Linked DNA regions of Homo sapiens. The protein of the gene in region 1 purifies or fractionates together with the protein of each later gene. This does not show direct contact. Each region holds a gene or a part of one and is shown on either strand. Other genes may lie near its edges.

Evidence for each region. The genes of interacting proteins can lie anywhere in the genome.
Region 2: the proteins of SLC39A11 (region 1) and CHSY3 purify together in Homo sapiens (affinity purification with mass spectrometry; one large-scale study listed by BioGRID and IntAct). This does not show direct contact.
Region 3: the proteins of SLC39A11 (region 1) and ZSCAN18 purify together in Homo sapiens (affinity purification with mass spectrometry; one large-scale study listed by BioGRID and IntAct). This does not show direct contact.
Region 4: the proteins of SLC39A11 (region 1) and METTL9 purify together in Homo sapiens (co-immunoprecipitation; one large-scale study listed by IntAct). This does not show direct contact.

Annotation. Positions count from the first base shown.
Region 1 is NC_000017.11:73,082,689-73,086,188, reverse strand, and holds part of SLC39A11 (zinc transporter ZIP11), read left to right. Parts: intron 1-1,342; coding exon 1,343-1,381; intron 1,382-3,500. UniProt on the Homo sapiens protein: Zinc importer that regulates cytosolic zinc concentrations either via zinc influx from the extracellular compartment or efflux from intracellular organelles such as Golgi apparatus. May transport copper ions as well.
Region 2 is NC_000005.10:130,180,465-130,183,799, forward strand, and holds part of CHSY3 (chondroitin sulfate synthase 3), read left to right. Parts: intron 1-1,995; exon of another isoform or gene 1,996-2,295; intron 2,296-3,335. UniProt on the Homo sapiens protein: Has both beta-1,3-glucuronic acid and beta-1,4-N-acetylgalactosamine transferase activity. Transfers glucuronic acid (GlcUA) from UDP-GlcUA and N-acetylgalactosamine (GalNAc) from UDP-GalNAc to the non-reducing end of the elongating chondroitin polymer.
Region 3 is NC_000019.10:58,083,356-58,085,793, reverse strand, and holds the end of ZSCAN18 (zinc finger and SCAN domain-containing protein 18), read left to right. Parts: intron 1-414; coding exon 415-1,109; 3' UTR 1,110-1,938; downstream 1,939-2,438. UniProt on the Homo sapiens protein: May be involved in transcriptional regulation.
Region 4 is NC_000016.10:21,654,774-21,657,971, forward strand, and holds the end of METTL9 (protein-L-histidine N-pros-methyltransferase isoform 1 precursor), read left to right. Parts: intron 1-453; coding exon 454-659; 3' UTR 660-2,698; downstream 2,699-3,198. UniProt on the Homo sapiens protein: Protein-histidine N-methyltransferase that specifically catalyzes 1-methylhistidine (pros-methylhistidine) methylation of target proteins.

The sequences.
Region 1 (3,500 bases):
AGTACCAGCTCCTCACCTCACAGCCCCTTCCAATCAGGAGCCTTCAGTCTCCCTTCCAATCTCACCATCCCCAACCTTTACTCCAAGGGTCATCTCCCATGTGATCTCTAACAGCACGGATATTTTCCCTGTTTCTGTGCTTTATTTAGATGGAGTAATCATATAGTACGTACTGTTCTGCATCTGGCTGATTTTACCCTACTTGTTTTCCAGTTTCTTTAATGTCCCTGTCTGTTTGTAAGATGTAACTGTAGTATGTGTGTGCGTTCCCATCGCCATTATGGTACCTGTTGTATGAGTGTATCCTAGTTAACATATCCATCCTACTGTTGGTGAGAGTTTGGGTAGTTTCTAGTTTTGGGCTCTTAGCACTGCCGAACATTTTTCTTCATGGGTTTGTTGAATACAAGTGCATTCCTGTCATGGGATTACTCAGGAGTGGCACACATAGTGTTCACCTCTCATCGGTGCTGCCAAATAGTTTGCCAAAATGGTGGTACCCGTTTGCACCGCCATTGTGTGAGGGTTTTTTTTTTTTTTTTTTTTGAGGCGGAGTTTTGCTCTTGTTGCCTAGGCTAGAGTGCAATGGCATGATCTTGGCTCACTGCAATGTCTGCCTCCCGAGTTCAAGGGATTCTCCTGTCTCAGCCAAGTAGCTGCGATTACAGGCATGCATTACCGTGCTTGACTAATTTTTGTATTTTTAGTAGAGATGGAGTTTCACCACGTTAGCCAGGCTGACCTCAGATTCCTGACCTCAGGTGATCCACCTGCCTTGGCCTCGCAAAGTGCTGGGATTATAGGCATGAACCCTTGCACCCAGCCTATTTTTTTTTGTATTTTTAGTAGAGATGGGGTTTCATCATGTTGGCTAGGCTGGTCTTGAACTCCTGACCTCAGGTGATCTGCCCGCCTCAGCCTCCCACAGTGCTGGGATTACACATGTGAGCACTGTGCCCGGCCTGTGTGAGGGTTTTGATTGTTCCACCTGCTCCTCTGCTCCTCACCAACGCTCAGTAATTCCCAACTTGTAGACAGGCTACTTACTAAAGGTTTACAGTTGTAATTCACAGGGAAAGCTGAGTAAGAGACAACACAAGGGCCAAGACAAGCCAAGCACCACTTGAAAGAACGCTTCTGATTGGCTATGGGGTGGGTGGAAAGTTAACCAAAGACTTTCCCCGTGGTTCTTGGCCCATGGTATAAACTGAGTAGCTCACGAGCTCAGGAGTCGGCCAGTCTTTATTTGCGTGGCTCTTTTGGGCCTTATGGTTTCTTCTTGTCCCAGGAAACATCATCTTATTGTCTCTTGGAAACTGAAACATCTTGTTTTGATTTTCAGAGGCGGATCTTAGATGGAAGTCTTGGCTTTGCTGCAGGGGTAAGTAGCATGTAGTAGGAGAAATGGAAATTGAGGCATACTGATTCTGACATGTGTCTGCCAAGGGCTGTCTTCAGTCCCTCCCCTTGCGACCTAGATGCATCTCTGTGTTCCTCAGGCACTAACACCTCCCTCTTATCACCTGCCATATTTATTTCCCAGCTTATCAAATGCCCATTTCTCTTTAGACAGCAATCGAGGTTTATTTGACAGCTGCCTCAGGACTAGGGAAATAAGATCTTATTTGGTAAGGGCCTAGCACAGGCCTAGCCTAATACATAGTTGGCTCTAACTAAATATACTTTTTCCTCCCCTTCTCCCTTAAAAGATCTTTTTTATAGGCCTTTTTTTTTTTTTTTTTTTTTTTTTTGAGACAGAGCCTTACCCTGTCACCCAGGCTAGAGTACAGTGGCACAGTCATGGTTCACTGCAGCTTCAACTTCTCTGGACTCAGGTGATCCTCCCAACTCAGCCTCCCAAGTAGCTGGGACTACAGGCATGTGCCAACGTGCCTGGCTGATTTTTGAGTTTTTGCAGAGATGGGGTTTCACCATGTTGCCCAGGCTGGTCTTGAACTCCTGGGCTCAAGTGATCCACCTGCCTAGGCCTCCAAAAGTGCTGGGATTACAGGCGTGAGTTATGGAACCCAGCATATTATAGACATTGTTAAACATGTAAAAATTGTGGATAGAAGCCTGTAATGCATCCCAGACACCCATCTCCCAACTTCAATCATTATTGACATTTTGCTAATCTCAGTTCACCTGTCCTCCCCAAAACTTCTTGGGAGGTTAGAATATTTTATAAAAGCTAATCCCAGATGACATGTAATTCCACCTGTAAATTCAACACACATGTCTAACTGAATGACTTTTTAAAAATAAACATAATCACATGGCCATTATACCTACCAAATTAATAATTCCTTTTTATGATCTAACATCCAGTCCATATTCAGATTTTCTTCATCTTTCTAAAGGTGTCATCTAATATTGTTTTGTTATAATTGGGGTCCAAACAAGGTTTCTATATTGCATTTGCTTGTTATATCTTTTAAGTCTCTTTAATTTTTTAACAGTTCATTTTTTTTTTCATGCTAGTAATTTGTTGGAGAAACTGGGTCATTTGTCTCTAGAATGTTGGCTGATTACTTCCTCGTGGTGCTGCCTAACTTGTTCCTCAGTCCCCTGTATTTCCTGTAAGCTGAGAGTTAGACCTGGAGTCTTGATTAGTTCAGATTCCATTTTTCAGGCATGAAGATGTCATGGTGCTGTGTATTGCAGATGTATTACCCATATCAAAAGGCGTGTAATATGTGGGTTTCCCTTTTAGTTGATCAGGGTTTGGTTTCTTTCTTCAGTTTTTATAGCCCTGCGATCTGGAAAAACTAGCCTGGAGGTGGAGCCTGCCAGAGGCCATCTGAGTCAGTAGCTGTTAGACTGGAGCCACTGTTCCGTCAAAAACACTGTCCTTTCTGAGCCATACACAGGTGCACAGAGAGTGTTGAGAAAATTAGTTTCTAGGTCCTCAGCTTCCATACGTTCTCTTCCCTATAACTGCTGTGCCTGAGAATGCCGGGGAAGCCAGCCCTACTTTCTTTCCTTCCTTGGCACAGCTTCCCTTTCCCACCTTACACAAGAAAGATGCTCTTGCCTTATAACCTTGTCTCTGGGTGGCATGGTCTTCAGGCAGACATGGAGGGCCCCTTGGAATGTTGGTGCTGGCACGGAGAAAGTGAAGGGCCTTGTCTCTAATCACTGGGCATAAGTCCATTTTTTTTTTTTTTTTTTTTGAAATGGAGTCTCCCTCTGTTGTCCAGGCTGGAGTGCAGTGGCTGGATCTTGGCTCACTGCAACCTCCGCCTCCCGAGTTCAAACAATTCCCCTGCTGCAGGCTCCCGAGTAACTGGGATTACAGGTGTGCACCACCACGCCTGGCTAATTTTTTTTTTGTGGTTTTAGTAGAGATGGGGTTTTGCCGTGTTGGCCAGGCTGGTCTCGAACTCCTGACCTCAGGTGGTCTACCCAACTCGGCCTTCCAAAGTGCTGGGATTACAGGTGTGAGCCACCATGCCCGGCCCACAATTCCTTTAGCAGTTCTGATGTGATCCTGTCCTTTG
Region 2 (3,335 bases), on another chromosome or scaffold:
ATTTTCCATTGCTCCAAAAGTTACCTTGTGCCTATTAGTAATCAACTCCTGTTTTGTTTTTGTTTTTTGTTTTTTGTTTTTTTAATATTTTAAAGTTTCTCAGTTAAGACTGGGCACGGTGCCTTATGCCTGTAATCCCAGACCTTGGGAGGCTGAGGTGGGAGGATCACTTGAGCCAAAGAGTCCAAGACCAGCCTAGGCAACATAGTGAGACCCATCTCTACAAAAGAAATTGAAAAATTAGCCGGGTGCGGTGGCATGCACCTATAAGTCCTAGCTACTCAGGAGGCTGAGGTGGGAGGATTGCTTGAGCCCAGGAGCACTGCAGTGAGCAGAGATCAGGCCACTGCATTCCAGCCTCGGCGACAGAGTGAGACCCCATCTCAAGAAAACAAAAAACAAAAAAGTTTCTCATTTATATAGCTATGATCATTTCAGAAATGACCTATGCTATGTTTTCATTATTAATAATTCTAAGAAAGGTAATGAAAGTTTAATGCGGTAGAAGAGTAAATAATTCAACATAAAACTACCTCTTGGCATTTATTCTTCTTCTGTTAGGTTTTTTGAGAAGATTTTCCTAGAGGCTCTCAGATAATCTTTCTCAGAGGGTGAGATCATGTGTGATACGCTTAAAGCACTGGGGTCAGTCGGGGCACACTGGTGTTCATTGCTGCTGTGATTTTGTTGTTGTGAAATGATTTTTCTTTGCCGTGTAATGTTCTGGAGGTTCCATGAAATCCACTGATAATTCTTTAAAGGAGAGGAAGCCAGCTTAAACTAAAGGTTCTTAATTATTTCAAGCAAATTAATATAATTTTTAAAATAAATTTTACACATATTTTTCTTAGAACAATTTCGCTATGTTCAAAATGTATCATGATCTATAGAAAAACTGAAAATCATGAGAATTCTAGTTTTAATTTTATTCTCATCATTCTCAATAGACACTTGGGTGAATAACTCTGGGAAAATCTCTCTGATATCTTCTCTCTCTCTCTGTCTCTCTCTCCAGGCCCACATATCCACACATTTATGAACATACATGTCAGAAAAGCATATCTAATTCTATGTGCATATATATGCATACTTTCAAAATAAAGTCCTTCATTAATTGGAGTATAGCAGATAAATATATCTTAAGCAGCAGTTCAGTGAATGTTCACATATTAAATGCACACATATGACCACCACCTGGATAAATAAAAGAACATTACCAGCACTCCAGAAGCTTCCCTCTTCTTGATTCTTGATCATTATTCCAACAGCAAACCATATAGGTTAGCTTTACCTGTTTCTGAATTTCACATAAATGGAATAATACAAAATGTATATGGCTTCTTTCATTTTTTGTGAGATTCATCCATGTTGTTGCAAGTAGTATTTCAAGTATTTAATTGATGTATTGTTTTTCATTACATGAATATACTACATTTATTCTGTTCTTGATGTAAATTTAGGTTATTTTCAGTTTTGGAGTATGAATAATGCAGCTACGAAAATTATTCTATATATATTTAGGTGTATGTATGTATATATATATATGTATTTCTATTGGGCATATATCTAAGAGAGAATTACTGACTCATAGGGAATATGTATGTTCATTTTAGTTGATACGGGTTTTCTCAGTGATAGAACCAAGTTATATTCTCACTAGCAGTGTATGAGAGTTCCAAATTTTCCACTGCCTTCACAATGCACAGTATTATCTATCTGTTTTTTTGTGGATCCATCACGTTATCCCATAGTAATTTTAAGTTGCTTTACCTTGATGATGAATAAAGTAGAGAATGTTTTTATATGTCTATTGAGTATTTGCATACTCTTTTGTGAAGTACTCATTCAGGTTTTCTTTGTCACTTTTCTGCTAGGTTTGTCCTTCCTTTTTTCCTTATTTGTATAAGTTTATTATATGTTCTGGGAATTGGTTCTTTTTCATAAAATCTATTGAATTTTTTTTCTCCTGCTCTGTAATTGCCCTTTATTATTTTCCTAATGGTGTTTTTAAAGAACAAGGTTCTTAACTTTAACATAATGTAATGTATTAGTCTGTTTTAATGGTTAGTGCCTTATGCCCTATTTATAAAATCTTCACATACCCAAAAGTCTTGCAGATATTTTCATGTAAGTTCTAGAAACTTTTTAAAGCCTTTTTCTAAAATAAACCTTTATGTTTACATCAACAGGTCATCCATTGTAGGATGTAGGGGATCCGTTTTTACTTTTTTCCCTTATATGAATATCCTACTGATCTGGCACTAATTACTTAAAAGACCACCCTTTCTCCAAACTGTAAGCTCTATTTTATATTTCTATTACTTTGCTAATTTTTTTCAAGTCTCTTCTTCCTACGTTTTTCACAAATCTCTTTTTATGCTTCTTGCAATATGTCTATCAATGATTTTATTTTTTTCTCCCTTTTTTCCTTAGCCCTGCCAGTTTACTTTTTATCTTTTTTAAGCTTATTTGTCTATTAATTGAGTTTTTTTTTTGAAGAGGCTGTTTTTTTAAATTTATGTACAATTTGTACCTGCTTCTGATGAGTATTCTTAAGTTTGCAATATTTCTTTCTTCTTATTCATCAGTATATTTGCAGACATGGTGCTGCTGGCCTTTTTTCTTCTTTTTCACCTCCTTCTCCTCATCCCCTCTTTTCTTCCTTCTTTTTATTGTTCATAATCACGTATCTCGAGTGGGTATAATGGAGGTGTCTTAATCGACTGGCAGAAAAGGAAGAATCAGCTGGCGGTTTGAACTTTGTCCTCATAACTACATATTTTTTTTCATTTTTGTTTCTGCCTGAACTAGTGAATTTGTTCTAGACTAGCAGAAAGTCTTTTTGTTTCATAAGGATGTCAAGCATGTCTATTTTGGGTATGATACTTTACATCAGGAGTGTAGATCAGTATAGTTTCCGTTTCACCTTATCTTACCAAGAACTTACTCGGTAAAAATAGTATATCAGGATGCTAAATGAAATTTACGACTCCCCTGGCAAATAACTTCTTATTGCCATTCCAAACAACAGGTCATTGGTTTTCCTCCTTAGGGTGAATCCTTATTTTGGAAGACTCATGCTGTGTCCATTCTGTCTCTCTCCTTCTCCGTGATCTGTTATGGGGTTATGGACACAGTCAATTGTTGTTTTATGTATAGCTAGAGGTTCATTTGCAATATTTGAGCCTATGAACCTGACATTTGTGCTCTCACTCATATATAGAAATCAAAAAGTTGATTTCATAGGACTAGAGTGTGGAATGTTGGTTACCAGGGGCTAAGCCAGCTGGAGAGAGGGGTTGGGGAGATTTTTGTCAAATGATACCACATTTCAG
Region 3 (2,438 bases), on another chromosome or scaffold:
TGGCCTTAGCTATTGACCCCACTCTCTTCGCTGGCAGCCGGGCCCCTCCCTCCAGGAGGGTGCGCTCTGAGCAGGCTCTCCTTGCATCGTGCATCTTGTGGCCAAGCTAGTGGCCAGGTGGAGACCTCCAAAGGCGCGGTTTCCAGAACCCGGGCTCAGTGGGGCTGTCCTTCCTGTCCTGTCGGTGGCCTCCGTTGTTGGAGGCCTCCAGGTCCCACATCTGCAGCAGCAGGCGCGGGGCATGCGCTGCAGGGCTGCCTGGGAGGGACAGCGCTGCTTCCAAACAGCCGTGAGCCCCGCGGGGATCCAGAGCCCGGAGCCCTGTGCGCTGTTCCGGCAGCTGAGGCTCGGCTGGGTCCTCCTCTCCCTGGCCCTGGGCGGGGCGCTCACGCTAGGGCTCTGACCTTGTTCCAGAAGGCGGGAGGCGGCAGGAGAGCGCTGGGTGCGCCTGCGAGGAGGCCGCCCCCGCGGGGGTGCTGCCTGAGCTGCCTACGGAGGCGCCCCCTGGGGACGCCCTTGCCGATCCCCCGTCGGGCACCACTGAGGAGGAGGAAGAGCAGCCTGGGAAGGCCCCGGACCCGCAGGACCCCCAGGACGCGGAGTCCGACTCTGCCACCGGATCGCAGAGGCAGTCCGTCATCCAGCAGCCTGCCCCGGACAGGGGCACGGCGAAACTGGGAACCAAGAGGCCGCACCCCGAGGATGGGGACGGGCAGAGCCTCGAGGGCGTCTCTAGCTCCGGCGACAGCGCAGGGCTGGAGGCCGGGCAGGGCCCTGGGGCTGACGAGCCGGGCTTGTCCCGCGGGAAGCCCTATGCCTGCGGCGAGTGCGGGGAGGCCTTCGCGTGGCTCTCGCACCTGATGGAGCACCACAGCAGCCATGGCGGCCGGAAGCGCTACGCCTGTCAGGGCTGCTGGAAGACCTTCCACTTCAGCCTGGCCCTAGCCGAGCACCAGAAGACCCACGAGAAGGAGAAAAGCTACGCGCTGGGGGGCGCCCGGGGCCCCCAACCGTCCACCCGCGAAGCCCAGGCGGGGGCTAGGGCGGGCGGTCCCCCAGAGAGCGTGGAGGGCGAGGCTCCCCCCGCACCCCCAGAGGCGCAGAGGTGAGCCGCTGTGCTGTCCCGTTCCGGAGGGGCCGCTTTGCCGGCCGTGAATCCCAGACGAGGCATTGGGCCTTTCCACGCCCCTGGGTGGCGGCTTCCTGTGGTGTTTGTGGACGTCCTCTGCCTGTGCCCTGAATCCGCTCCTGAGGCTAAGCGCTCCCAACGAGAAGGGTCCACGGGAAGCCCTCACCTCTGTAAACACACCCTGGGCCAGCGCTCGCATCCGAGGGGAGCCGCCGGATGTGGAAGAAGACTCGGCTTTCCTGCAGCCATTTAGTGCCGCCCCATGCTAGGTTATTTGACATTGTGCAGTGTAGAGTTGCCTTAAAGTGCGTGATCTGCCAGTGCTTTCTTCAAGTCACCCTTGCCCCGATTCCTCCTGTTTGCGCTCCCCAGGGTTGCTCAAGTGGAAATTTTGTCAGCTGTTTAGCCTTTTCGTACTTGGCGTGATGTCAACTTCACTTCTAATCTGCAAAAGCAGAAGCTGTTTCCTAGTTTACCTCGCGTGTGTTTACCTATATGGAGTAGCTCGCAGAGATCACAGAAATGCTTGCAGCCTAAGGCAGGGTTTTCAGACCGTGGGTCCCAGCCCATTTAGTAAAATGGGAAATCAATTAGCAAGTGGTCACCAGCATTACACAGCAATGAAGCAGAATAAAGTAGGCCAGAATGCATCATGTAGTAAAGGCAAATACTGTTTTGTGAAACTTTTCACCCATACATCTAAATGTGAGAACTGGTTGCAATGTAAGACATTTCTTGCTGGGAAGTTGTGAGCAAAATAAGTTGAAAACACTAATAAAGATCTGTCTGTCTGAGCAAAGGAGACTAAACTCCTTGGGCTACATAAGGTGATCTTTTCATTGATTGCATTTATTCTCAAGATTACAGTATCATTCCCATTGCCTGCGCATAAACTTAACTGCTCCCTGCGCATAAACTTAACTGCTCCCTGTAGATACAGAAACTGGTGCCTCTTTTTCTGTCACTGTGTTTGAGCAGGCAGTCTGTTGTAATGACCCCCAAATCACAGAGACTTAGTAAGTACTTATTCATGGGCCGGGCGTGGTGGCTCACACCTGTAATCCCAACACTTTGTGAGGCTGAGGCAGGCAGATCATGGAGTTTGAGACCAGCCTGGCCAACATGGTGAAACCCTGTCTCTACTAAAAATACAAAAAATTAGCCAGCTGTGGTGATGCGTGCCTGTAATCCCAGCTACTCAGGAGGCTGAGGCAGGAGAATTGCTTGAACCTGGGAGGCGGAGGTTGCAGTAAGCCAAGATTGTGCCACTGCACCCTAGCCTAGGTGACAGTGCAAGACTCCATCTCAG
Region 4 (3,198 bases), on another chromosome or scaffold:
AGTTTACTATGCCAGTGGTATTTTCTTGCATTTGTCCAAAACTGTCCTTCAGATATTACATGTTGCTCTCTGTTTCAGTATTCCAGCATTTAATGACCAGTTTTCCAAACCCATTAACCATTACACCCTGCAGTCAGTCTATTGGCAGATACTACCCAAAACTGTCAGAGAAGATAACAGTGTGGGGCCTTGGATCCAGACAAACCTGGGCTTACATTTCCATACTGACACTCATTAACCTTGCAAGCGTGGGCAAGTTCTTCACCCCTTCTGAGTCTGTTCTTTATCTGCCCACCTGTCTCAAAGAGTACCTGGGAAGTACAAAAGAGGTAACTCATGAAGCCCTCAGGCTTGGAACGTACCAAGTCCTTGGTAGATATGGCTCCTCCCTGCTTCCCTCTTTAAATCACTTGTTTGTTCAAGAATTTAACTGAATGTTCTTATTTGTATTAGTAGGTGGCAAGTGGGAGAAACCATCAGAAATTTTGGAAATCAAAGGACAGAACTGGGAAGAACAAGTGAATAGTCTGCCTGAAGTTTTCAGAAAAGCTGGTTTTGTTATCGAAGCTTTCACCAGACTACCATACCTGTGTGAAGGCGACATGTATAATGACTACTACGTTCTGGATGACGCTGTCTTTGTTCTCAAACCAGTATAAACACGTGGAGGTCGAAGTCTTCAGAGTCCGCACCCTCCGGGATGTGCCCTTGGAAGAGGGTCTGTGTTCACAATTACGTGAAGGGAGGACCCTTGGGGACCGCCATTCTAAATATCATGTAGGAATTTAAAAAGCCAAAATACTAATTATTTCTTTGTAGTGTGTAAAGGAATGTTTTTAAAAGACAAAAACCCAACTCTTTGTGGATTTTTATCAACTCTTTACTCAGAGCCACTCTCCAATGCAGGTCACACTCCAATTATGATGGAAGATATTTTTTATACTTAATTGCAGTAGGGACTCATTCCCAGACAAAGCAATAGTCACGACTTCATGGAACCAATCAATGGATTGTTTTTTGAAGACTGGCAATAAAGCTGTCCATTCAATTCCAAATACTGGTTTTAAGGTATAGCCACTGATATTCTTTCATGTTTAGAAATTCTTTCTGTTATTATTCAAGAAAATGTTTTTAATCATGCTAATAAACTTTTTTGGAGATGACTTTGGCATCATGTTTGAATTCATATAAAGCTCCCCTAGCATTTTTTATTGGTTTGGCTTCAGGAGTACCCAAATAGTAGCATTATGAGAATGACGCAGACAATTTGAATAGGGGGGAAGGAAGGCTTCAGACTTGGGGGAAGGGGAGATTATTGCAAATTGCAGTGAACACTGAGTCAGTAAAAAAAAAAAACAGAAACAAAAACCCAGCCTCATTCAGATACAGAACTTCAGGGACCCCTCCCCCCACCCCCCCAGTTAATGCTGCTGTGAAAAATGCAAAATAACCTGGTTCTGACTTTGTGATCACTCATGTCCCATACACTGAACTTTGTTTTTTTCTGGACAATCTCAGGTTCTCAGAATTGAAACATTCAGTTTTGTCTACTGACAAAATGCAACTAAAAATGTTTTAATTCAACTTCTTACTCTACACTTATATACCTCTCTCCCAGAGCTTGGCTCTTCCCTGAAATCCTTAAAGGAGTTTATTATTTGCCAAGAATATGGTTTGATGAAGACCGTGTCAGACTCATGCATTCTGGAATCCGTGAGTGCCTCCAACCATAAACCCAGAAATGCTGCCATAGAGGAACCCATTAGCAAGATCAATAACCATCGTGGATATTCCAAAGAGCAGAGCATTTAACCCAGAATCTGAAATCTCAGTAATAACAGAAATGTCAATATGAGATTGTGGTTATTAACAATATGTTATCCTCACTACTTTATTTCTTTTTTCATCCAGGTGTTTCATTAAGTATTCTCATTTATATGCTCATAGAAGTCATCAGATCAACACATTCACTCCAACACCTGGGTATAAAGGCGAATTAAAACCTGAAGAATTACTTTATTATTCATTAAGAACTGCATTCCCACATCCTCACACCAATATCTTCCACTGTTACTGTGCAGTCATAATAAGAGTTGGGTTATGTGATTTATGCAAAATTGTTATTGGTGTGTTCTAATGATTTTTTTCCAGGAATTCAAGTAAGTGAAGTACAAATACTTAGCACCATAGATTGTAAAAATAGAAAGAGGAAATGAGAAAACTTAATGTCGTTCTTGTACAGTTGAGTTTTGCTTCTTTATAAACTGTCTGTTAAAATCAGGGGTTGCTGTTAGACTGTCAAGCAGAAGTGATGGATGTTCAAGGAGGCAGGTTGCCCCAAAGTGTTTTCTAACTTTCAAGTAGAGAACTTTATGCTCTAATAAGAAAAATACAACTCATTCTTAACCACCCCCCCAAAACAGAGAAAACACATACATTTATGCATTTTAAAGATAAAAAGTAGTTTCTCAAAAAAATCTGAAGTTCTCTGAAAACCAGCTTATTAAAAGTGCTGTTTTGTGGTGAAAATTGAAACCAAATCCACTCACATTTCCTATCGGGTCTTGAAATTCTTGGTGGTGTGTCACCATTCCACTAGATGGCAGTGTTGCTTACTGAGTGTCAATGGCTTTTTTCCCCGTAAATGGAATCATGTTTTTCTCCCCCAAAGTACAATAAAGCTGCCTTGTCTGCACCATTCCTCGTGTAAGTGCTTCATATCAAGTTAAGACTGTACTAGAGAAATTAAGAAGAGCTTTATTTGTGGTAAAAGCAAGCTAACCAATTGACCTTAAAGGTTGAAATGCAAGCCACACCTCTGATTCCTAGCTCCCTGCACCTGCATTTTAAGCTCCTAAAGTGCTCAGACCACTGATCTCAGAGAAGGGGAGGAAAGGAGGTACAGTGCCCTTAGTCATTTATCCCTTGTACAGAGTAGTTAAAAGCAGTACTGTATTTTCTGCCATCCAGTGTGACCTGTCATCAGTTTTTACATGGTTGGCTTTTAACAGAAAAAAGTTGAGTTGGAAAATAAAGTGTAGATGTTTCAAGTCTTCCTGAGCAAAGCTTTGTTTTCACTTGGTTCTGAGTATAGTATTAATAGGCTATACTGCGTATGTTATTTACAGTATTAATGAAGCAAGATGTTTTCATTAATTGCTTCCCACTACTTGGTTACTGATGGAGGTGTTACATGAT